7 linked regions of the Homo sapiens genome follow. The protein of the gene in region 3 interacts with the protein of the main gene of each other region in a pairwise test. Each region holds a gene or a part of one and is shown on either strand. Other genes may lie near its edges. The genes, in order: CAMKK1, KIAA0408, PRPS1, IQCF2, ZNF497, UBAC1 and TTC23.

Region 1 (3,500 bases), on a different chromosome or scaffold from region 3:
TTCACACGATTCTCCTGCCTCAGCCTCCCGAGTAGATGGGATTTCAGGTGCACGCCACCATGCCTGGCTAATTTTTGTATTTTTAATAGAGACAGAGTTTTGCCATGTTAGCCAGGCTAGTCTCGAACTTCTGACCTCAGGTGATCCACCTGCCTCGGCCTCCCAAAGTGCTGGGATTACAAGTGTGAGCCACCATGTGGGGCCCATCCCCTTGTTTTGACAGACGTCAATGAGGCAGGGCTGGCTGGAGTCGGGAGCCCCAGGGAAGTCTTCCTGGAAGCAGTGAGAGGGATGGGGGTAGGAGGCTGAAACATCAAGGAGGGCTCCCTGGAGGAGGCGGGTGGGTCTGAAGCATCAGCAAGGCTTCTGAGTTACTAGTGTCTAGCTCAGCTTCCAGGAGGCAGTGTCGGAGTGCTCTGCTGTCAAGGGTTGGGACTCATGACTCACAGGGCTGCATGCTGTGCTGGGGCTGAGCTGACCCTGGGCTCTGCCCCTTCCAGTGCTGCTGGGCCTCCAGGCTTCTGCCCTGTCTGTCCTGATTCCAGAATATCAGATTCTCTCTGCTTCCCTGTGAAGCCAGCAGGCAGAAGTGACTGCCTCTGTTACCGGCAGGGATACTGAGGCCTAGAGGGCTGGCATGCGGCAGAACCGATGTGAATTCATTCAGGTCATAGGGACAGACTTGAGTTTGGGTGTTGGCAATCCCGGTAGAGGGAACAGCCAGGGCAAAGGCATGGAGGTGGGACCCACAGCGCTGTGGCTACCTTACCTGGTAGCCAGCCTGACACCCAGGAGTGAAGCCTTCTCTGCCTTCTTTTCTCAGGTTCCCAACAAGGCTACGCAGAAGAACCCCCTTGACTGAAGCAATGGAGGGGGGTCCAGCTGTCTGCTGCCAGGATCCTCGGGCAGAGCTGGTAGAACGGGTGGCAGCCATCGATGTGACTCACTTGGAGGAGGCAGATGGTGGCCCAGAGCCTACTAGAAACGGTGTGGACCCCCCACCACGGGCCAGAGCTGCCTCTGTGATCCCTGGCAGTACTTCAAGACTGCTCCCAGCCCGGCCTAGCCTCTCAGCCAGGAAGCTTTCCCTACAGGAGCGGCCAGCAGGAAGCTATCTGGAGGCGCAGGCTGGGCCTTATGCCACGGGGCCTGCCAGCCACATCTCCCCCCGGGCCTGGCGGAGGCCCACCATCGAGTCCCACCACGTGGCCATCTCAGATGCAGAGGTTGGTGGGGCAGAACGAGGGGTTGTTCATGAGCCCCTCAGTAGTCTGCAATGAAGACTCTTTCCTGCCCCTGTCTGTGCCACACGGCTATCTAGCTTTGGTTTGCATACCCTCAGAGCTGGGGAGATCACTACCTAACAATATAGCTTCTTCCCAACCAGGGGAGCTCCAGCTGAGCCAAAGGCTGCCTTCCCTAAGTCCTGCTATTCCCACTCCCAGCCCAGGCCTAGGAAATAGGTCTCTCCCTGGTCCCCTATGTAGTCTTCTTAGAGATGTGAAGATAGATGCTATGTCCCCCTTCCCCCCTAACTCTTCTCCAGCTTGCACCCCTCGCCTCTAATTCTGCCTCTTAGAGTCTGCTGTGACTCAGAAGCGGCCGGCCTGCCTCCAGCCTCTGGGCTTCTGCTGGAGTTCTTGCCATTTAGGTCTGAAAGTGAACTCAGGTTCCAAGCAGTCTACAGATGTCAGGGGCTGAGCTTTCTGTGCCTGAACCCAGGCTCTCAGCCTCTGTGCCCAGGGCTCCTCATCTTGTCCTTGGAGTCTAGACCTTCTCATTCAGCTGCTTCTGGAAATAGTTGCTCATGGGTTTCTCATGGATTAGGGTCTTCCAGACTCCAGAATCCAGACAGGAATTAGCGTTTTCCCTTCACCACTGCTTCTGGGGAACAAGGCACAGCCATGGCGTCACCATCCATGTTTTCAAACATGAGCCACGTCTTCTCGTCACATACGGGGGCGATGGCACCACCAACTTCCCCATCCAAACTCAAAAGCTTGGTGAGACCTGGGGGTCCGGGAATGAGGAGCTTATGGCCAGAATTGGACCCTGAACGGGCTCTGAGGTAGGAGCAGTGCTGCCTCCGGACCCAGCTCCACCTGGTGCTCGCTCTTCCCCCACAGGACTGCGTGCAGCTGAACCAGTACAAGCTGCAGAGTGAGATTGGCAAGGTAGGAGTGGGCAGGCCGAGAGCAGTGGGGGCTTCGGGATTCTCTGTTTGGCGCTGCTCCTTCTCTCGTGTGGGAGGGAACGGGAGGCAGAGCCAGGCAAGTCCTAGCCTGGAGGTGAGGACAGTTTCGTGCCCTGTGGGAAGTACCCAGGTACCCAGGGGGAGGGTGGAAGATGGCTCCTGATTCCCGACTCTCTGAGTTCTTGACAGTGGACAAGGAGGGACTGAGGGAGGCATGGAGCCATGTGGAGCCAAGCAGGGGCAGTTACCAGGGCGCAGGAGTCCCCTCCCCATCTGCTACAATATTTGCCCGTGAGCCAGCTGGTGGTGGGTAGTGCAGATGGGGTGCAGGAGAGACCAGAGCTGCTCGGCTCCCCACCTCCTGAGCTGGTCCTGGGAGGGGTTGCCCTGTCCAGGTGGGGCTGACTGATGCCTATCTGCAGGGTGCCTACGGTGTGGTGAGGCTGGCCTACAACGAAAGTGAAGACAGACACTATGTGAGTCTGGGGATACGAGGGAGGTGTTGCCCAAGCCAGGCCCTGGAAGCCTGAGGGGTGGGGCAGGAGTTGTGCTTAGGAGATAGAGGACAGGGCTGCCTGAGAGTGAGCTCCCTGTCCCTAGGGGTATGCAAAGGAATGAGCTTCCTAACCCTGGGGATATGCAAGCAGAGACTGGATTCCTCTGAGGGGAAAGCTCCAGAAAGGCTTGCTGGGGGAATAAGGGGAAGGGCTAGGCTCAGATATGGCCACCCCCAACCCCGCTTAACACTTACCTGGGCCACACCCTCAGGGCCAGTAGCAGATGTCCAGTGTGCCTCTCCGGACCTCAGTCCACATGTACCAGCCTGTTCTAGCCCCTGGTGGCTGCACAGTAGTGACATTTCTGTCCCTCCTTCCTTAGGCAATGAAAGTCCTTTCCAAAAAGAAGTTACTGAAGCAGTATGGCTTTCCACGTATGTATCTTCTGATCCTGTCCCTGGGAGCTCCTAGCCTGGAGGCAGAGGAGGAGACCTCGATCCTGAGCTAGTTTTGGCTAGGAATGGGGTAGAGAGGGAGACAGCGTGAGCAGAGGCCTGGGGACAGAATGTGCCCTGTGGGTTGGGACAAGACCACGGGCATGCAAGACTCTTGCTTGAGACTGGTTTGGGGGCCACGGTGAGGCCCAGCCACCTGGAACAGGTGTTTGAGTTCTCTTCCTGGTCACAGGTCGCCCTCCCCCGAGAGGGTCCCAGGCTGCCCAGGGAGGACCAGCCAAGCAGCTGCTGCCCCTGGAGCGGGTGTACCAGGAGATTGCCATCCTGAAGAAGCTGGACCACGTGAATGTGGTC
Region 2 (2,242 bases), on a different chromosome or scaffold from region 3:
TTGGGAATAAAATCATGATACTTAAAATCTGATACACATTTCAATGATAGTATTAATCCAATAGGTTAAATTAACAAATTCTTAGGAAAAAAATCTGTTTATATGAAGCTATGGAGAAATCTAGAAAGTAGGTAACGGTTTAGATTTTGAGGGACCTATGAACTCAGAACAAGTTCATTTAGAGGTGGGAAACCTGAGATTCAAAGAGGTCTGCATGGCTGCCAAGATTGCAGGGACAGAATCCAAGCCTGGGCTCACTCATGATCTGCTCTCCTGTATAAATGTCCCATGTGCATCTATGACCTTATTGTTTGCAAAGCAAATTCATATTCCACGACTTGTCTGCTTCTTACAACAAACTACAAGGCAGGCATTGTGATTTCTAAGTAAGAAGGAAAAATTAAGTAGTCAAGATAATATTTAGAATAAATATTTTTGAAGATGATAGTTAAATAGATGGCTCTTCAGACTCCTAGCTCAGGCTATTTTTCCAGCCTTCTTTTCCCAAGGAAGAGAAGACAAAAAAAAAAAAAGATTGAACAGCTCTTTTTCATTTTTGTTTTGTTCATTTTATACATGACACAAATTGTTTATCTTGCTCTCATTGGGAGTTTCTGTTGATTCCCTCTTTCAATGATCATCAAAAGTCATCACCCCTGACTTAAATGGTTTTATGAAATTCAAGAAGTTGTGAACAAGGCTTTAACAAAATATTTCCACTTTTAATGCCTATGCTCTGATTTTATATAAATTTTGTATGTAGGACATGATGTTGAAGTAAAACCAATAAATAGCCAATCAGTATTCATCTCTAGCGTCAACTGAATCCTGACCTCAATCTTCAAAAGAATCAGAATAGTTTCACACTTCATAAGTTACATATACTCCAGAATAAATAAAAGCAGTTTGCTTGAAGTATTATCTTGGCTCATTTGTGCTGCTATAACAAAACACACTTGAGACTGGGTTATTTATAAAGAACAGAAATTTATTTCTCTACAGTTCTGGAGGCTGGGAAGTCCAAGATCAAGCTGCAAGCAGATTCGGTGTCTGGTGAGGGCTGCTGTGTGCTTTCAAGGTGGTGCCTTATTGCTGTGTCTTTATATGGCAGAAGGGGCCAACAATGGAGAAACAGCAGAATAGCAAGAAGCAGCTGAATGCTATGTGATGCTTCTTTTATAAGGGCCTTAAATCCCATTCATGAAAGAGAAGCCTTCATAATCCAATCACCTCCTAAAGGCCCTACCTCTTAATATTGAAGATTAAGTTTCAACATGAATTTTGGAGGTACGTATTCAAACCATAGCAAGCATACAGTAATTTCCAATATAAACCTCACTCAAAATTACAGTCACATGCTGCACAAACCAGTTCAATGCACATATATGATGATAAGATTATAATACAATATTTTTGCTATACTTTTTCTATGTTTACATATACAGATATCATTGTGTTACAATTGCCTTTAGTATTCAGTACAGTAACATGCTGTACAGGTTTGTAGCCTAGGAGCAATAGATCATACTTTCAAGCCTACCATCTAGATTTATATAATTACACTCTGTGATGTTCGCTCAGTGATGAAATCACCTGAGAACACGTTTCTCAGATCATATCCCTGTTGTTAAGCAATGTGACTGCAATTGTGCTCTGCTGCCAGTTTATTTTTGAAGCTTTATTTTTCAATTACTTACTCATGGCAATTTTATAAGAATCATTAAACAAATTTAATCCAGCTATTTGGGATCTGCAGATTTTTTCTTACATAATGCTGACCAGTCTCAACACCAAATTGTCTAACCTGAATTATATATTTGTTTATTTGAATATTTTCTTAAAATTTTCTGTTTAAAATTAACCCAGTAAAGGGTTTTTTGAGTTAATGATATCTGTAGTAAAATAGTTCATTTGCAATGAAAGCCAGAGAAGCACCCACAATATTCTTTAGAGGAAGCTACATGTAGGAGTAATAGGGGGCAAAAGTCTCCATCTGTGAAAACTCAGGAGGTAAATGATTGGGAATAAAGATTCTTCCTAGAAAAGCAGAGGTAAGGAGAGAGATACTGAGACCTGGCATGCCACCTAGTTAAAGATGGTGGCCATGTAGCCCACAGAGCCAGAGCTAAGTGAATTTATGAGGTATTCTACTTAGCAAAAGCAAGCATCTAGGCTTTCCAGACAGATCCAGGGGCTGGGAAAAGCACTACATCGAGGACTCCAGGGTGGACAGTGCTCACAG
Region 3 (3,500 bases):
CACTTTGGGAGGCTGAGGTGGGCGGATCACCTGAGGTCAGGAGTTCAAGACCAGCCTAGTCAACATGGTGAAACCCGTTTCTACTAAAAATAAAAAAATTAGTCAGGGTGTGGTGGCTCACACCTGTAATCCCAGCACTTTAGGAGGCCAAGATGGGTGGATCACCTGAGGTCAGGAGTTTAAGACCAGCCTGGCCAACACAGTGAAAACCCATCTCTACTAAAGTATAAAAATCAGCCGTGCATGGTGGCACACGCCTGTAGTCCCAGCTACTCGGGAGGTTGAGGCAGGAGAATCACTTGAACCCGGGAGGCACAGGTTGCGGTGAGCCAAGATCACGCTACTGCGCTCCAGCCTGGGCAACAGAGTGAGACTCCGTCTCAAATAAAAATAAAAAAAAAAAATTAGCTGAGTGTGGTGGCAGGTACCTGTAGTCCCAGCTACTCAGGAGGCTGAGGCAGAAAAATTGCTTGAACCGGGAGGCAGAGATTACAGTGAGCAGAGATCGTGCCTCTGCACTCTAGCCTGGGTGACAGAGCAAGACTCCATATCAAAAAAATATATATATATATATATATATTTATATTACACTATTTCATATCTGCAGATTTGGTCTTGGGACCAATCCCCTGTGGATACTGAGGGATGACTTTACTATACTTCTATAGACAATAAGGTCTAAGAACAGCTTCCCTACTAGTATGCTGTGAATGGTTACAGCTACATGTGGATATTGATCACCTAGGCTTCAGGAGATCCTCTGAAGGAGCCTTATACCAGAAGCAGTTCACTGCCTCAGTTTACTCCAGTGCACTATACAAATATTACCATTTTCTATGGTAATATTTTCTAATATTACCATGTGACAGACACGAAAAAGATGCATGAAATGGTTGGCACATGTTAGTCTAAAGTACTTACAAATAACCGGACCATAATTTTAGCAGGTGGCCTGTATCTCATTTCATATAGGTACATGTGATGTACATAAAATTTGATGCATCACCTATTACTGTTACAGAGTCCATAAATAGCAAAAGAAGTAGAAATATCATAAGGAGTGAATCACTACTGTTCTATAATGACACTTTAACAAAAGACAGTACCACCTCTACCATACTGGCAATTTACCCAGTAAATATTAAATGTTCATATGCTCATCACTGTACTAGATGCTAGGGAAACAATGGTGAATAAAATGTGGTCCTTGCCCTCATTCTGTGTTAACTGTACTCTGGTCCAATTACTAAGTAACTCCATAGGAATTTACTCTAAGTATGAAGTAGGGCTATATTTTACCACGAAAGTTTCAGTGCCCATACTCGGGTCTCTACCAAGAAAAAAAAATCACCTCTCCTGTTCACCAGGTTTAAGAAAAAAAAAAGAAAATAATTTAAAAATTTTTAAAAATCACCTTAGTGATACCTCAAACAACATTATATTCCAACTAATCCTCTAGGTGAAGGAGAGGTGTATGTGTGTATATAGACAAGTAGATCAGAATGGCTGACAATACCTATTGAACAAGAGAAAACTTCAGTTCAAATCAAAAGGCAATAGAGTTATTAAATAAAAGATCCATACTTCTATCTCACTCTAAGCACTATCTTCTGTGTGGCTTCAGGAACTACCTACTGTCCTATTTCTGTCAAGATCACTTTTACCCACCCTTCTCTCCCCAAACAAAACTTCAAGGAGAACTCCAAAAGGGACTTATATGAAAACTGGCAGAGGCAATTCTATTGCCAGAAGAAGCTGACATAGGAGATAATTACTTATTTATTCCTTTCTAACCCAAGATGAAAGGGAGCTGGGAGTGGTGGCACACACCTGTAATCCCAGCTACTCAGGAGGCTGAAGCAGGAGGACTGCTTGAGCCCAGGAGTTCAAGTCTAGCCTGGACAACACAGGAAGACCCTCATCTCAAAAGCAAGAAAAGACAAATGGGGTTAGTTTATGTTGTAAAGCAAGAAAAATAAAAGCAAGTGAAAAAAAATCAAACTAGAAACCAATTAAAATCAAGGAAGCTGAGATTCCTGGCAGCCAGAACAAAAAAGAAAATGCACTAGTTTAGGATAAACCTTTTTTAAGACTGGACGCAGTGGCTCATGCCTGTAATCCCAGCACTTTGGGAGGCCAAGGCAGGCAGACTGCCTGAGCTCCCCATTTCAAGACCAACCTTGGCAACATGGCGAAACCCCGTCTCTACCAAAAAACACAAAAATTAGGCGTGGGGACATGCATCTGTAGTCCCAGCTACTCAGGGGGCTGAGGCAGGAGAATCGCTTGAACCTGGGAGGCGGAGGTTGCAGTATGGGGAGATGAAGCCGCTGCACTCCAGCCTGGGTGACAGAGCGGGACTCCGTCTCAAACCAAACAAAACAAAACAAACAGGCAGTGGTCATTTCAAGGGACTTTTGGGACGTTTTCAGTTTTTTTTTTTTTTTTTTTTTGAGACAGTCTCGCTCTGTCGCCAGGCTGGAGTGCAGTGGCACGATCTTGGCTCACTGCGACCTCCACCTCCCGGGTTCAAGTGATTCTCCTGCCTCAGCCTCCCGAGTAGCTGGAACTACAGCCGCACGCCACCACGCCCAGCTAATTTTTTGTATTTTTAGTAGAGATGGGGTTTCACCATGTTGGCCAGGATGGTCTCGATCTCTTGACCTCGTGATCTGCCCGCCTTGACCTCCCAAAGTGCTGGGATTACAGGTGTGAGCCACCATGTCTGGCCCAGATCTTTCTTTACTACTAGCTCTGCCCTTCGAGAGATTTCAAGCTAAAAGAGTCACTTTTAGGTTTTATGTTAAACAAGTCTGTGGTTGGGAGGCAGAGGCAGGAGGACCGCTTGAGCCCAAGAGTTTGAGACCAGCCTGGGTAACATAAAGAGACCTCCTCTCTACAAAACAATTTAAAAATTAGGCATGGTGGCAAGTGCCTGTGATTGCAGCTACTGGGGAGACTGAGGTGGGAGGATTGCTTCAGCCCAGGAGTTAGGAGCCATGATCATGCCACTGCACTCCAGCCTGGGTGACAGAGTGAGACACTGTCTCAAAAAAAAAAAAAATCAGAAAATTTTAATGCTGCTCACATTCATCCTCCATATATCAGCTCCTTGACCAAAATATGCATTTCCCTGGAGGAGAATGAAAGTCAGGCAGGCATATTGATTTCCAATCATGTATCAGAAGCCTATGGCTCTTGTTTCAGTCAAGAACACAGAGTATCATCTGTGCTCCAGACATTCACTTGCCAGAGTCAGGATGTTTGATTAAAAGTTGGAGAACAAATGAACAAATGTAGTTTGACAATTGATATCAGACAGTATAAGGGACAAGCTATTCTGCTATGTTTTTAAAACTTTATCATTATCGCTGGGCACGGTGGCTCACGCCTGTAATCCCAGCACTTTGGGAGGCCGAGGCGGGCGGATCACGAGGTCAGGTGATCGAGACCATCCTGGCTAACACGGTGAAACCCCGTCTCTACTAAAAAATACAAAA
Region 4 (3,571 bases), on a different chromosome or scaffold from region 3:
TTAGGGTCACCACCTAATCATTAGCATGCCTAGCCCCAGCCCCACCTACCAGTAAGGCCAGCCTCTTATCCTTCACCTGGGGCTGCACTACATTGCTCCCAGGAGAATCAGCCAAATATTGCCTTTCCATCTAGGTGCTTGCCAAAGAGGAAACTGAGGCATCCCAAACCCCAGCCGACCTTGATTCTAGGTTGACAGAGCAGGGCCCAATAGTCCATCCATATGTGCAGAGGTGCCCAGAATCTTCAGGAAGATGGAGCCCAACTGCCTCCCAGATCCCCCGGTGAGAAGAAAATAAGGCTGGGGATGGGAACTGGGATTTCTGGCTCTGTCATATATCAGAGCAGACTGGGGCTTCCTATGGCCATTGTCAGTCCAAAACAGGGTCCTTGGACACAGGGGGCAAACCTCACTGAAATTCTTTCTCAGGGAGAAGAGGAGGCAGCAAGGTCCAAGTCTCAAGAATCCCATTAGCTGGGGGAGCCCATGAGACACACCAGACCAGGTTAGACCTTTAATAGGGACAGTAGACACAGTGCCCTTCTTGCCAGCCCTTAGGAGTTGATGATCTCAATGTGGAACTGCAGGTGAGTGGCTGTGACCACACAGTGGCCCTGGAGGAGAGCGCAGGTCTGGCAGTTGTGGCATTGCCAGTGGCCCTGGATGATGTAGATGGCATTGAGCACCTGGCAGTATCGCCAGCGGACACGCCACATACGGACCAAAGACTGGAGCTTGATCACTGCCCTCTCTCTGGTTGCGTAGGCGATCAGAGCTGCCTGCCGTTTCTTCTCCAGCACCCTCGACAGCGTCATCCGCCACCAGCACTGAATTATCCAGGCCCTGAGGGCTGCATGCAGCAGTGTCCTGCGCACCAGGGTGCCCCGCCACCAGGCCTGGATCTTTACAGCTGCTTTTGTTCTTATTCTAAGTTTTTCCTAGGCAGAGACAAGAGCGATCAGTCAGAAAACTTCCTGCCACCAACTTCTAGGATCTTCCTGGAAGGAGCCTGGATTTTCTCTCTCAAAACACAGCCCTTCCTCAGAATTCAGGGAAGTTAGCAGGACACTGACTAGGAGCCATCAGACCTGGTGGTGACCTTCCTCTGCCACTGTGGGCACATCACTTCAATCTTAGAGTCACAGAGTTCTTCTGCAGACTATTTCTGCAGTGCATGGATCAAGGGAAAAACCATTAGTAACTAGAAGGGTGCAATAGGGATGTGTGGGACCTTGTTAGTCACACTCACCTCTTTGGTGCTCACTGGGTTTGGAAAGGCCTCATAACCTTCTGCCTGGTAATTATCTGCTAATTCCAGCCCCAAACCACCACTGGCTGATTTCTGTCTGCTATGACCATATTTTGATACTATGGTAGGTTTTCAATACCCTGACCACATATTCTACTCCAAGTCTTTCCATATTTTGAACAGTCTACTCTCTAATTCCAAGTTCTCACATTCTCACCTCTCAGCCTTATGCATTTCTTGATGGCTTTCATTCTTTTTTTTTTTTTTTTTTTTGAGAAGGAGTCTCGCTCTGTTGCCCAGGCTGGAGTGCAGTGGCGTGATCTTGGCTCACTGCAAGCTCCGCTTCTCGGGTTCACCCATTCTCCTGCCTCAGCCTCCTGAGTAGCATAGCTGGGACTACAGGCACTCACCACCACACCCGGCTAATTTTTTGTATTTTTAGTAGAGATGGGGTTTCACCGTGTTAGCCAGGATGGTCTCAATCTCCTGACCTCATGATCTGCCTGTCTCGGCCTCCCAAGGCTTTCATTCTTTCCAATCACTCTCAATATCTCAGTCAGGCCCAGATCCAGACAGCCCAGACTGAGAAGAGAATGGAGGAAAAATGAGCCAACATTGAGTTGACTCCTAATTAGACCCTGGATTGATAAGAGGCAAAGTCCTACACCTTATGATGTAGTTATAAATGTTCTGGATTTCTCTTAAGTACATGGAATTCTTCTCACCTTGATTTTCTGCTGTTTCTTCTTCTGCAATGTCTTCCATTCAATGCTTTCTTCAACATCCTCAATTATAACCAAAATTAAATTGCCTTTGGTCTGTCATCAGAATTAAATGGGAAGTACATAAATGAGTTAAGACTGTTTCTCTCTATGGCTCTATACAAAGACAATTACTACTTTAACATCCTCTCTTTTCTCAAGTCCTGTAAAGCCCAGGGAGATACCCACCCATTCCTGGTCCACCTAATAGATCTGGCCATGTCTCTTACACAAAATCGAACCCTCATGGCCTGTCCTTAGATGGTTCATTAGCCCTGATTTCTCTGCTTCCCAAGGTCTGGCATGAGTAACGTGAGTGAGGAGAGAGCTCTGAATTCACAATTGCATTATGACATAGGGATTGGGACATCTGCCACAGAGATGTGTCTCTGTCAGAAACAAACTCCAGGGGAACTTGTACTGTAGCAGGATGAGCTGCAGACAAAACCCCTCAGACACTGGGTTAAAGAAGGAAGAGGCTTTATTCCCCCGGGAGCATTGGCCGACTTGCATCTCAAGAACCGAGCTCCCTAAAGAAAGAGTTCCTGGCCCTTTAAAGGGCTTTCAACTCTAAGGGGTCCATGTGAAACCTGGCCCTTTTTAGGGCTTTCAACTCTAAGGGGTCCATGTGAAAGTGTTGTGATAGATTGAGAGCACATGTGGTTAGAGTTGGGGGTGGGGAGGGTTAATCTTTCAATCTCAGGTCTGGTCAGTGGCACCAGTTGGTCTTGCCACTGACTTCATTCCTGTTGTTCTTCAGCTTTTACTTCCTCATTCTCTTCAGAGACAGGAGACAGTAAGAGAAATGGCCTCTCTCCTCAGTACCATGTGTCTGCTTGCCTCCTGTCAGAGATGTGTCAGAGCTGAGGGTGGAAAAATAGAGCACTTGAGTGCCATTCCATAGCAGGGCTCTCCTCATGTGAAGTCCATCCACAGTCCCTTCTCATTATCATCAGCATGGCAAAGCAGGGAGGACCATGACGGTGCATCCCCATATCACTCTCTAGCGTCTGGTGAGATTTAGCACTTCCTCTCTTCCCTTGACTCGGTGCCTCACAAAGCCTTAGGAAACTAGAAAAAGATACACCAGATGAATCTGGAAAGCAGTCAAATAAAGATCAAAACTTAAATTAATGCATAGAAAACAAAGATGGGTAGTGGAAAATAAATTTAAAAGGCAGTATTCTGACAAGACCAGTTTTAAAGATACACAGTTTACCAACCTGGGTAATCAAGAGAATGAAGTGGAATGAAAAAGGTGAAATAGCCACAGGGAAATTTAAATAAATACAAGGAAATATTGATGGTGACAAATTTGAACACTAAGAGAAAATGATTTTCTTTCTCTCTTTTTCTTTTTTGGAGATAGGGTGTCACTCTGTTGTCCAGGCTGGAGTGCAGTGGTGCAACTTTGGCTCACTGCAGGCTTGACCTTCCTGGACTCAGGTGATCCTCCCACCTCAGCCTCCTGAGTAGCTGGGACTACAGGCACACACCACCATGCCTGGCTATTTATTTTTTTCATTTTTTTGTTCTTTTATTTTTTAAAGTATGTATTTAT
Region 5 (2,947 bases), on a different chromosome or scaffold from region 3:
GGGACAGGCGTGTGGCCGTGCGCCCGCGTGGATCTTCAGGTGCTCGGCCAGGTTGGAGCTCTGGCTGAAGGCCTTGCCACAGTCCCGGCAGGCGTGCGGCCGCGCGCCCGTGTGCACGCGCCGGTGCTCCAGGAAATTGGAGTTCCAGCTGAAGGCCTTGCCGCACTCCGGGCACTCGTAGGGCTTCTCGCCCGTGTGCGTGCGTCGGTGCTGCACCAGCGTGGTGCTTCGGCCGAAGGACTTGCCGCAGTCCGGGCAGCGGAAGGGCTTCAGGCCGCTGTGTGTCTCCTGGTGGTGGATGAGCTGCGAGTGCGCGCGGAAGGCCTTGCCGCACTCCCTGCAAGCGTAGGGCTTCTCGCCGCTGTGGATGCGCTGGTGCTGGCTGAGGTTGGAGCTCCAGGCGAAGGCCTTGCCGCACTCGGGGCACGTGTACGGCTTCTCGCCTGTGTGCACGCGCCGATGCTGCAGCAAGTAAGAGCCCTGGCTGAACGCCTTGCCGCACTCCCCGCACCGGCAGCCCGGCTCCTCTGGGAGAGGCGAAGGGCGCAACGCCCGGTCTGCAGGCTCGCTCCTGGGCCCAGCCCCGTCCCGCCCACCGTCTGCGGGGCCCAGCTCCCTGCCGGGGCCTCCCTGTTCGTCCGCCGCCCCCAGTGTGGCTTGCTGCCGCTGGCCGTCCCCTGCCTCCCTCGGAACCTCCGTGGAGTTTTCCCAGGCCCCCCAGCCTCCAGACACAGCCCCCTCAGAGAGGCCCCTCGTGGCAGTCTTCACATTGCAGAGGACCTGGCCTTCCTCTGGGGCCACCTGCAGGGTCCACCCTCTTGGGGACTCCATCTCGCGCCTGTGACCTAAAACAGGAGAGAAAAGGCAAGTACCTTAGAGAATACAAAGAACACCAGACAGAGGGCCTGAGGGGGACACGACGGTGGGTGGGCTGTCATCCCCCACTCTTCTCCTCCAGGTCCCTGGATGCCCAATGCCCTCTGGAGCCTGGAGCAGGAAGGCCAGCAGGCGGGCTAGACACTCGGGGGATGGGCCAGCACTCTGGGCCTGCCTGACAGGGCCACGTGCACATCCCCACACCCGGCCCGGCCCAGCAGGAGGGGAGGGGGCGCCAGCATCGCAGAAGGACTCAAAGTTGCCCACGCACCTGCACTGGCCCTACTGTGGCACCACTCTCCTCTCCTTGCTTCACAGGGTGGGGCCCCAAGTGTCAAGAAGGTGGAGACTCCAGTTTGTGAGGAACACGATGGACCCGTCTCCATTCCTGAAGGCTGGAGGACACCGCCTGACCCAAACACAGCTATGTCTGCCTCACCCACTCCACCCTGGCCGGATCCCTGGGTAGTCCCCTCCACACAGTATGGGCAGCATGTCCAGGCTGGAGGATCTCAGTGGCTGTTACCCAGGCAATGTCCACACCAGGCCTCTGTGCAGGTCAGACCAGGTGGTCCAAGGCATGGGGTGGCTGTGCAGCCCAGATCCCTGAGAGAGAGAGAGGCCAAGGGTGGGAGGGCCTCCTTGGTCCTAAGGCCATGCCTGCCTGTCCAGCCGATCCTTCCCACAGCGAAGTCTCTACAGCGAGCAAAACCCATCCTCATTTGCCCTGAGCACCTTATCATCCTTGTGTAGTCTCCAGCCCCGCTGCCAAGGCAGGGCAGGGACAAGTGTGTAGATGGTGCCATACCTGGAGGTGGGGCCTGGAAGGGGCCCAGGGGAGCCTCTTGCTCCTCTCCCTCCTCTGTCCTGGGGACCAGCTCCTCTTGGGGCCTGGGGGCTGGCACCTGGGGACAGGAAGGCAGCAGGGCAGGGTGAGGTGTTCAGCCTAGCAGATCTGAGAAAACAAGGGGCATGCGGTGGCATGACCCACCCTTCTCTGCACCTTCAGTTCTCAGGACACAATGCGGAGCACACAGGTGTGGACTGGAGATCTCTGACTCTGCCGTCCAAGCCAAGACCACCAAACTCCCACCTGTCACCATCACTTTCCCACAGCCCCCAGGCCCTCTCAGCCACCAACCCACGACTGGCCCCAGTGCTGGCTCAGCTGGGGTCGTGAGCAGGGGAAGCACACCCAGCCCCCAGACCAGCCCCCACTCATCTGGAGTCCTGGCCCAGCTGACTCCTGCTGTAGCCGCTCTGCCAGGGCAGTGGCCTCCTCAGGGCTGCCTAGCCACTGCTCCTGCGTGTAGGCCTGGATCTCTGGGAGCAGTGTGCCCAATAACTGCTCCAGCACCAAGAGCTCCAGCATCTGCTCCTTGGAGCAGGCCTCAGGCATCAGCCACTGGCAACACAGCTCACGCAGCTGAGCCAGGGCCCCTCGGGGCCCTGCTGCCTTCTCATAGCAGAACCCCCAGAAGCACTGGCCAGGGCTCTTGGAGCTGGGCTCACCCACCATCAGTTCCAGTGGACTCGGGAAGACCTGGGGGGCCAGGGCTGATGCCTCACTCATCTGGGCAGCCATCCTGCCCCTTTCCTGGGAGGGGAGTGCAGCTGCATGGCCCAGGGTACTTTCTCTGCAGCTGGAAACACAAAGGTGAGCCTGTGAGCACAGCAAGGCCACGAAGGTCCCCTCCTTGGGACCACCTGAGACTGAGTAAAAATGGAAGAATGGGGGTATCGGCGTTTCTGGCCCCCAGTGTCAGCATCTTTGCCCACCTGTGTGTCCAGGTGCCTGAGGGACACACTGAGGTGCCATGGCTGCTTGTACCATCCCTTCCCCCCGCCTCCCCGCTTTTCTTGAGGGTCCCTGCCCTGCCCTGTCTCCTTGGCACCCTTCATCCCACACACAGAACAACTAAGACAGAGACTGTGAACAGGACACCCAGAGTCAGACCAGCAGATGGGTCCTGTTTGTCCCCTCCAGGAAGTGTTTTAAAAATTTAAGTTAGGCCAAGTGCGGTGGCTGACGGCTGTAGTCCTAGCACTTTGGGAGGCCGAGGTGGGTGGA
Region 6 (2,452 bases), on a different chromosome or scaffold from region 3:
CGCCTCCCAGGTTCAAGCAATTCTCCTGCCTCAGCCTCCTGAGTACCTGGGATTACAGGCGTGCACTACCACGCCTGGCTAATTTTTCGTATTTTAGTAGAGACGGCTTTCACCATGTTTGCCAGGCTGGTCTCGAACTCCTGACCTCGTGATCCACCTGCCTCAGCCTCCCTAAGTGCTGGGATTACAGACCTGTTGGTCCCCAGGAGCTGAGTTCCTGGATGTTGGGAGGGCCTTTGCCACCCGAGCAGGCTGGAAGTGTCTCTGGAGCTGCGATGGCCGTGCCCTGATCTTGAAGGCTGGCCTTCTTTCAGAAGCGTATTGGCCGCCTGTAGAACCTTGGCTGTGAGAGACCTTCCGCTCAGCGTTTGGCCTGCTTTTCTCTTGGATTGTTTTCTTATTCATTCAGAAAGGTCCTCACCTCCTGGATGCTGACCCTTTTCCCATTATTTGTGTTGCAGATGCCGTTGTTCAGTTTCTGGTTTATTTCCTCACACTGATGGGCAGAATCCCGTGTTTTGATGTCCTTCAGTGTGTCTGTATTTTTTTTAAGATGTGAACCTTTAAAGAAAACCCTCCATGGCTGGGCGTGGTGGCTCACGCCTGTAATCCCAGCACTTTGGGAGGCTGAGGCAGGTGGATCACGAGGTCAGGAGTTCAAGACCAGCCTGGCCAAGATGGTGAAACGCTGTCTTTACTAAAAATACAAAAAATTAGTTGGGCATGGTGGTATGCACCTGTAATCCCAGCTACTCTGGAGCTGAGGCAGAGAATTGCTTAAACCTGGGGGGCGGAGGTTGCAGTGAGCCGAGATCGTGCCACTGCACTCTAGCCTGGGCGTCAGAGCAAGACTCCACCTCAAAAAAAAAAAAAAGAAAAAGGAAAACCCTCCTATCCGAAAGTCAGAAACACGTTTTCCTTTTATTTTTTTTTCCAAAAATGTTAAAAGTTTCTCTTAATTTAAGTCCATAATCTACCTAGAAGTATGTGTGTGGTGTGAGGTAGGGATCTTCTTTGTACCCAAATTCTAAAACTTGAGAATGGTCTTTTGTGAGTTTATTTTTATTCTTAGTGATTCCTTTCACACTGAAAGCATATTCCTCCTAGCTCTCCAGCTGTTTGTATACCTTAGGATGTTAGTGTGTGCTGCCTTGGGGTCTGTCCAATAACTTTTTCTTTTTTTTTTCCTAATAGAAATAGGCTCTTTCTCTGTCACCCAGGCTAGAGTGCAGTGATGGCGCCACTGTCCATGCAAGATCTGCCCCCAGCACACACACTTGCCCACCTCCATATTATAGACAAGACCTTCATTGTTTTAACTTGTATTCCTCTTTTTTTTTTTTTTTTTGAGATGGAATCTCGCTCTGTCACCCAGGCTGGAGTGCAGTGGCACGATCTCAGCTCACTGCAAGCTCCGCCTACCGGGTTCACGCCATTCTCCTGCCTCAGCCTCCTGAGTAGCTGGGACTACAGGTGCCCGCCACCGTGCCCGGCTAATTTTTTGTATTTTTAGTAGAGACAGGGTTTCACCGTGTTAGCCAGGATGGTCTTGATCTCCTGACCTCGTGATCCGCCCGTCTCGGCCTCCCAAAGTGCTGGGATTACAGGCTTGAGCTACTGCGCCTGGCCACTTGCATTCCTTTTGGTTATTAGCAATGTTGAATACTTTTCTGTTGGCCATTGCATTTCTTCTTTTACATACTGTCTATGCGTGTCATCTATTTGTTTTCCTTCTTTTTATGGAGACAGGGTCTTGATCTGTCACCCAGGCTGGAGTGCAGTGGTACAATCACAGCTTACTGCAGCCTTGACCTCCTGGGCTCAAGTCATCCTCATGGGTAGTTATGACTACAGGCATGCACGACCATGCCCAGCTATTTTTTTTGTTGTTGTTGAGATGGGGTCTCGTTTTTTTGCTCAGGCTAGTCTTGAACTCCTGGCTTCAAGCGCTCCCCCCACCTCTGCCTTCTAGAGTGCTGGGATTGTAGGCGAGAGCCATTGTGCCTGGCACATGTGTTTTTCAATTGCAATATTAATCCTAGAGCTTCCTTAATAGCTTCTTGGATATTAGGCACATCTTCCTTTGTTGAATGTTGTAAACTGTTTTTGCTCTCTAATTTTGTGTGGCATTTTCTGACATACAGAAGTTAGGATATACAGAAGACAGTCCTTCCTCAGGTTGGGCATGGTGGCTCATGCCTGTAATTGTAGCACTTTGGGAGGTTGAGGCAAGAGGATCACTTGAGCTCAGGAGTTCGAGACCAGCCTGGGTAACATAGCAGGACCTCCTCTCTACTAAAAAAGCAAACAAACAAAAAAACAAAATCAGCCAGGAGTGGTGGCACACGTACCTGTAGTCCCTGCTACTCAGGGGACTGAGGTGGGAGGATCATTGAGTCTGGGAGTTCAAGGCTGCAGTGAGCCATGATCACTCCACTGCACTCCAGCCTGG
Region 7 (3,500 bases), on a different chromosome or scaffold from region 3:
TAGTCCTGCTCAGGCTTAGAAAACCCCAGTACTAGTAGATGGACCTTTTTTCTAATATGCTTACGGGCCATTCAACCTCAGCTCCCGCTCACTTCTCTGGCTTTTAGTTCTCTCGTCATTTTCCATACCTGAGGTTTTCTTTTTCTTGCATTCAAGATTGGCATGCATTTAAAAATATTTGTGTTATATTATAACCAGTATGTTGAAGTATTTGGAATGATTGGGGTTTTGAATGATTTCTTCCCTCAGCGGCATGTCAGCAATATTTTCCAGATTTTTCATGTTTTAGAAATATGTACCAAGATTATACTCCAAATCCATCAAAATAAGTGAACTTTCAGAGTCCTACCCTCAGTAAAGTCATAGTTACCCTATAACTAAAGTTATAGGAAGAATTAGTGGTTGATCAACCTGAAAACTTACCAGTGTGTTCAGATGTGGGGCATAGTTTCTTCTTTTGCAGTAACTTTTCTTTATGTATCACCGGGAAAGCTAGATGTATGAAAATTAAAGAAAGTAAATTACGGTATCCTTCAAGACCTAAATCCTTTCTAATGAAACAGGCAGATTAATGGGCAAAGGACAGTCTTAACTGTTTTTTCTTGTCCCAATACCTCTTTCCAAATAGCTCAACACTGCTAACAGTATATTTATTCTGTTTCCATTTCAAATCTGTGAGCAGTTTTCAAAGTTATGATAAATGCTTTTCTTCAGATGTAGCTGAGCAGTATTTTCAAGAGAGCATGGCTCATCTTAAGGATTCTGAAGGGATGGGAAGAACCAAATTTCTTTCAATTCAAGATGAATTTTGCCATTTTCTACAAATGACTGGACAAAAAGAGGTAAGTGAGTTTGGATCACAATTGTCTAGTTATTCACAGTTGATATCCAAAGGGCAACTCCTTTACTCTGCAAGCATCCATTAAGCATCTACTGTGTGCAAAGCATGTGCCAGTCTCTAGAGGGACACATAAATAAGGCTAGGGCTCCTTTGGGGCAGCTTCCAGAGATACTTGCTCTTAGAAGCTGGGAGACTTTATGAGAATATAGATTGTCATGCCCACCTACAAAAGATCCTAAAGAAATAGTGGACAGGCCCTGCTTATTGAAGTCCTGCAGATCTGGCTGGAATAGTGTGGCAGTTAGTGTGTCTAATCCCTCTCTCCTCAGTTTGGGTAATGAATGGAGTTTGCATGTCTAAGGAAAACTATACGGTGCAGAAGTTACAGCTCAGTTGTTTAGTATTGATTCGTACAAGCGTGATTTACGTGGCTTATGAAAATAGAGCAAGACCCAGACCTTATATTCATTGGGAATTAAACCCTTGGGAATGCATTCCCTGCAAAGCCTAACATACCATTGCTTTATGTTTTTATATATGTGTGTGTGTGTACATATTAATACATATATATATATACAATCGCCCACAGATAGGAACAATTATATATATGTGTGTGCATATATATGTATATATGTATGTGTGCATGTATGCCCACACCCTCTTCTCAGCGCACCTAAGTCCTGTTTACTTTTCACTCCTCTCCGTTAAGTTTTTTTTTTTTTTTTTTTGAGACAGAGTCTTGCTCTGTCACCCAAGCTGGAGTGCAGTGGTGCAATCTCAGCTCACTGCAACCTCCGCCTCCTGGGTTCAAGCAATTTTCTGCCTCAGCCCCCCGAGTAGCTGGGATTACAGGCCCCCGCCACCATGCCCAGCTAATTTTTTTGTATTTTTAGTAGAGTTGGGGTTTCACCATTTGGCTAGGCTGATCTTGAACTCCTGACCCCGTGATCCGCCCGCCTCAGCCTCCCAAAGTGCTGGGATTACAGGCGTGAGCCACTGCGCCCGGCCTCTGTTAAGCTTTTCTTATCAGAGGTTAACGCCATCTCAATTTCCTAGAAAACCATACATACATACATATATACACACTCACACACATATATATATAGTTGTTCCTCAGTATCTGTGGGGGATTGGTTCCAGAGCCCCCAAGGATATCAAACTCCAAGGATGCTCAAGCCCTTGTACAAAATGGTGTCACATTTGTATATAACCTAGACAAAGCCTCCTGAATACTTTATATCATCTCTAGATTGCTTATAATACCTAATACAATGTAAATGCTATGGTAGTAGTTGTTACACTGTATTTTTTATTTGTATTGTTTTTATTGTTGTATTGTTATTTTTATTGTTTTTTCCCATATAATTTTTGATCTATGGATATGGAGGGCTGACTATGTATTTTTTTCAACTCTAACCTATCATGGCAAATCTTGGAAATGAAAAACTTTATTTCCCTTACCGTCTGTAGACCTCCTCCCCCACAGCTCTTTTCTCATCCTTAATCCCCCCTCCACCCCCGCCTTCTGTCAGCTAGGGAACACGGGCTTTTATGCCGATATACCTATGTTTCTCAGGCCAAAGTAGGGCCACAATCACCAGGACAAATTGGAGTTTCAGGATGTTTCTCAGTCACCCAACCCCAGGGAGAGAGAGGGGCCTTCCAGGGGCCTCAGACTCCCTCCCCATTCCCCCCTCACATCTCTAGAAGACAAGGGGAGTGCTCAGGTCAGAATAATGGGGTAGGTTTGCCCCCTCATGCCCCACTCCATCTAGTTCCTCAGCCATTTTTTCCTCCAAAATAGATCTTGAATGCATCCATTGTTTTCCATCTTTAGTCCTGCCACTCATCATCTCTTGCCTGGACCGCTCTAACAAGTTCCTATCTCTCAGCTGCTTTTTCCATGCTTGCCCTCTTCTAATCCACTCAGAATAAGGAAGCCATGGTGATGTTTCCAAAAAGCAGATCTGACCACTGAACACTCACTTGTAAAAGCCAGTCCACTGGCTCCCCGATGCCCTCAGGATAAACCAGAATCCTGACATGGCCCACAGTACCGTCCACGACCTGGACTCCACTGACATTTCCAGGCTCATTTTTGCCTCCTCTCCCTGATCCATGTTCCTGCCACACTGGCCTTTTCTAATTCCCACTTCCGGGCAGTGCCAGCTTCTGTTTCCTCCTCCTGGAAGGCCCTTCCTCATTCATCTCCAGGCCAATGCTAACCCATTCTTCATTTCTTACCAGCTTCTCTGATTCCTCTCCCCAGGCTTCATTAGATACTCCCCATTATTCTTCCTTAGAGAATCCATTTGATGTCATCAAATATTTGTAAGTATATATTCATGTGGATATTTAACATCTATCTTGCAACTAGACCGAACCTGTGAAAGCAGAGACCCTCTTGCCTGTGGTGAGGAGTGATGAGCAGAGAGGTGGATGCATGTTTGGCCACAGGCCAGCTGACTGTTCTGACTCCTGTGGGCCATGCATCAGTTCCCCTGTACTGCCTGGCTTCCCACCATAGTGTCTTGCTGAGTCAGCCAATGCTCAGTGTCACTGATGCTATGCCTCACTGCCCTTGCCCAAGTCACCCAGATCAGTGTTGATCAAAAGATGCACCTCACTCTCCTAAGCTGCCCTCGAAGATTTTAGCAAA

Evidence for each region.
Region 1: the proteins of PRPS1 (region 3) and CAMKK1 interact in binary tests that used the Homo sapiens proteins (3 or more experiments, as listed by UniProt).
Region 2: the proteins of PRPS1 (region 3) and KIAA0408 interact in binary tests that used the Homo sapiens proteins (3 or more experiments, as listed by UniProt).
Region 4: the proteins of PRPS1 (region 3) and IQCF2 interact in binary tests that used the Homo sapiens proteins (3 or more experiments, as listed by UniProt).
Region 5: the proteins of PRPS1 (region 3) and ZNF497 interact in binary tests that used the Homo sapiens proteins (3 or more experiments, as listed by UniProt).
Region 6: the proteins of PRPS1 (region 3) and UBAC1 interact in binary tests that used the Homo sapiens proteins (3 or more experiments, as listed by UniProt).
Region 7: the proteins of PRPS1 (region 3) and TTC23 interact in binary tests that used the Homo sapiens proteins (3 or more experiments, as listed by UniProt).

The regions. Positions count from the first base shown.
Region 1 is NC_000017.11:3,883,054-3,886,553, reverse strand, and holds part of CAMKK1 (calcium/calmodulin-dependent protein kinase kinase 1), read left to right. Parts: intron 1-823; coding exon of another isoform or gene 824-866; coding exon 867-1,226; intron 1,227-2,126; coding exon 2,127-2,174; intron 2,175-2,616; coding exon 2,617-2,670; intron 2,671-3,073; coding exon 3,074-3,125; intron 3,126-3,378; coding exon 3,379-3,500. UniProt on the Homo sapiens protein: Calcium/calmodulin-dependent protein kinase that belongs to a proposed calcium-triggered signaling cascade involved in a number of cellular processes. Phosphorylates CAMK1, CAMK1D, CAMK1G and CAMK4. Involved in regulating cell apoptosis.
Region 2 is NC_000006.12:127,437,906-127,440,147, reverse strand, and holds the end of KIAA0408 (uncharacterized protein KIAA0408), read left to right. Parts: 3' UTR 1-1,742; downstream 1,743-2,242.
Region 3 is NC_000023.11:107,635,010-107,638,509, reverse strand, and holds part of PRPS1 (ribose-phosphate pyrophosphokinase 1), read right to left. Parts: intron 1-3,500. UniProt on the Homo sapiens protein: Catalyzes the synthesis of phosphoribosylpyrophosphate (PRPP) that is essential for nucleotide synthesis.
Region 4 is NC_000003.12:51,860,354-51,863,924, reverse strand, and holds IQCF2 (IQ domain-containing protein F2), read right to left. Parts: upstream 2,311-3,571; 5' UTR 2,259-2,310; coding exon 2,241-2,258; intron 2,068-2,240; coding exon 1,975-2,067; intron 939-1,974; coding exon 555-938; 3' UTR 501-554; downstream 1-500.
Region 5 is NC_000019.10:58,356,805-58,359,751, forward strand, and holds part of ZNF497 (zinc finger protein 497), read right to left. Parts: intron 1,782-2,947; 5' UTR 1,685-1,781; intron 846-1,684; 5' UTR 832-845; coding exon 1-831. UniProt on the Homo sapiens protein: May be involved in transcriptional regulation.
Region 6 is NC_000009.12:135,934,922-135,937,373, reverse strand, and holds part of UBAC1 (ubiquitin-associated domain-containing protein 1), read left to right. Parts: intron 1-2,452.
Region 7 is NC_000015.10:99,159,082-99,162,581, reverse strand, and holds part of TTC23 (tetratricopeptide repeat protein 23), read left to right. Parts: intron 1-714; coding exon 715-842; intron 843-3,500. UniProt on the Homo sapiens protein: Participates positively in the ciliary Hedgehog (Hh) signaling.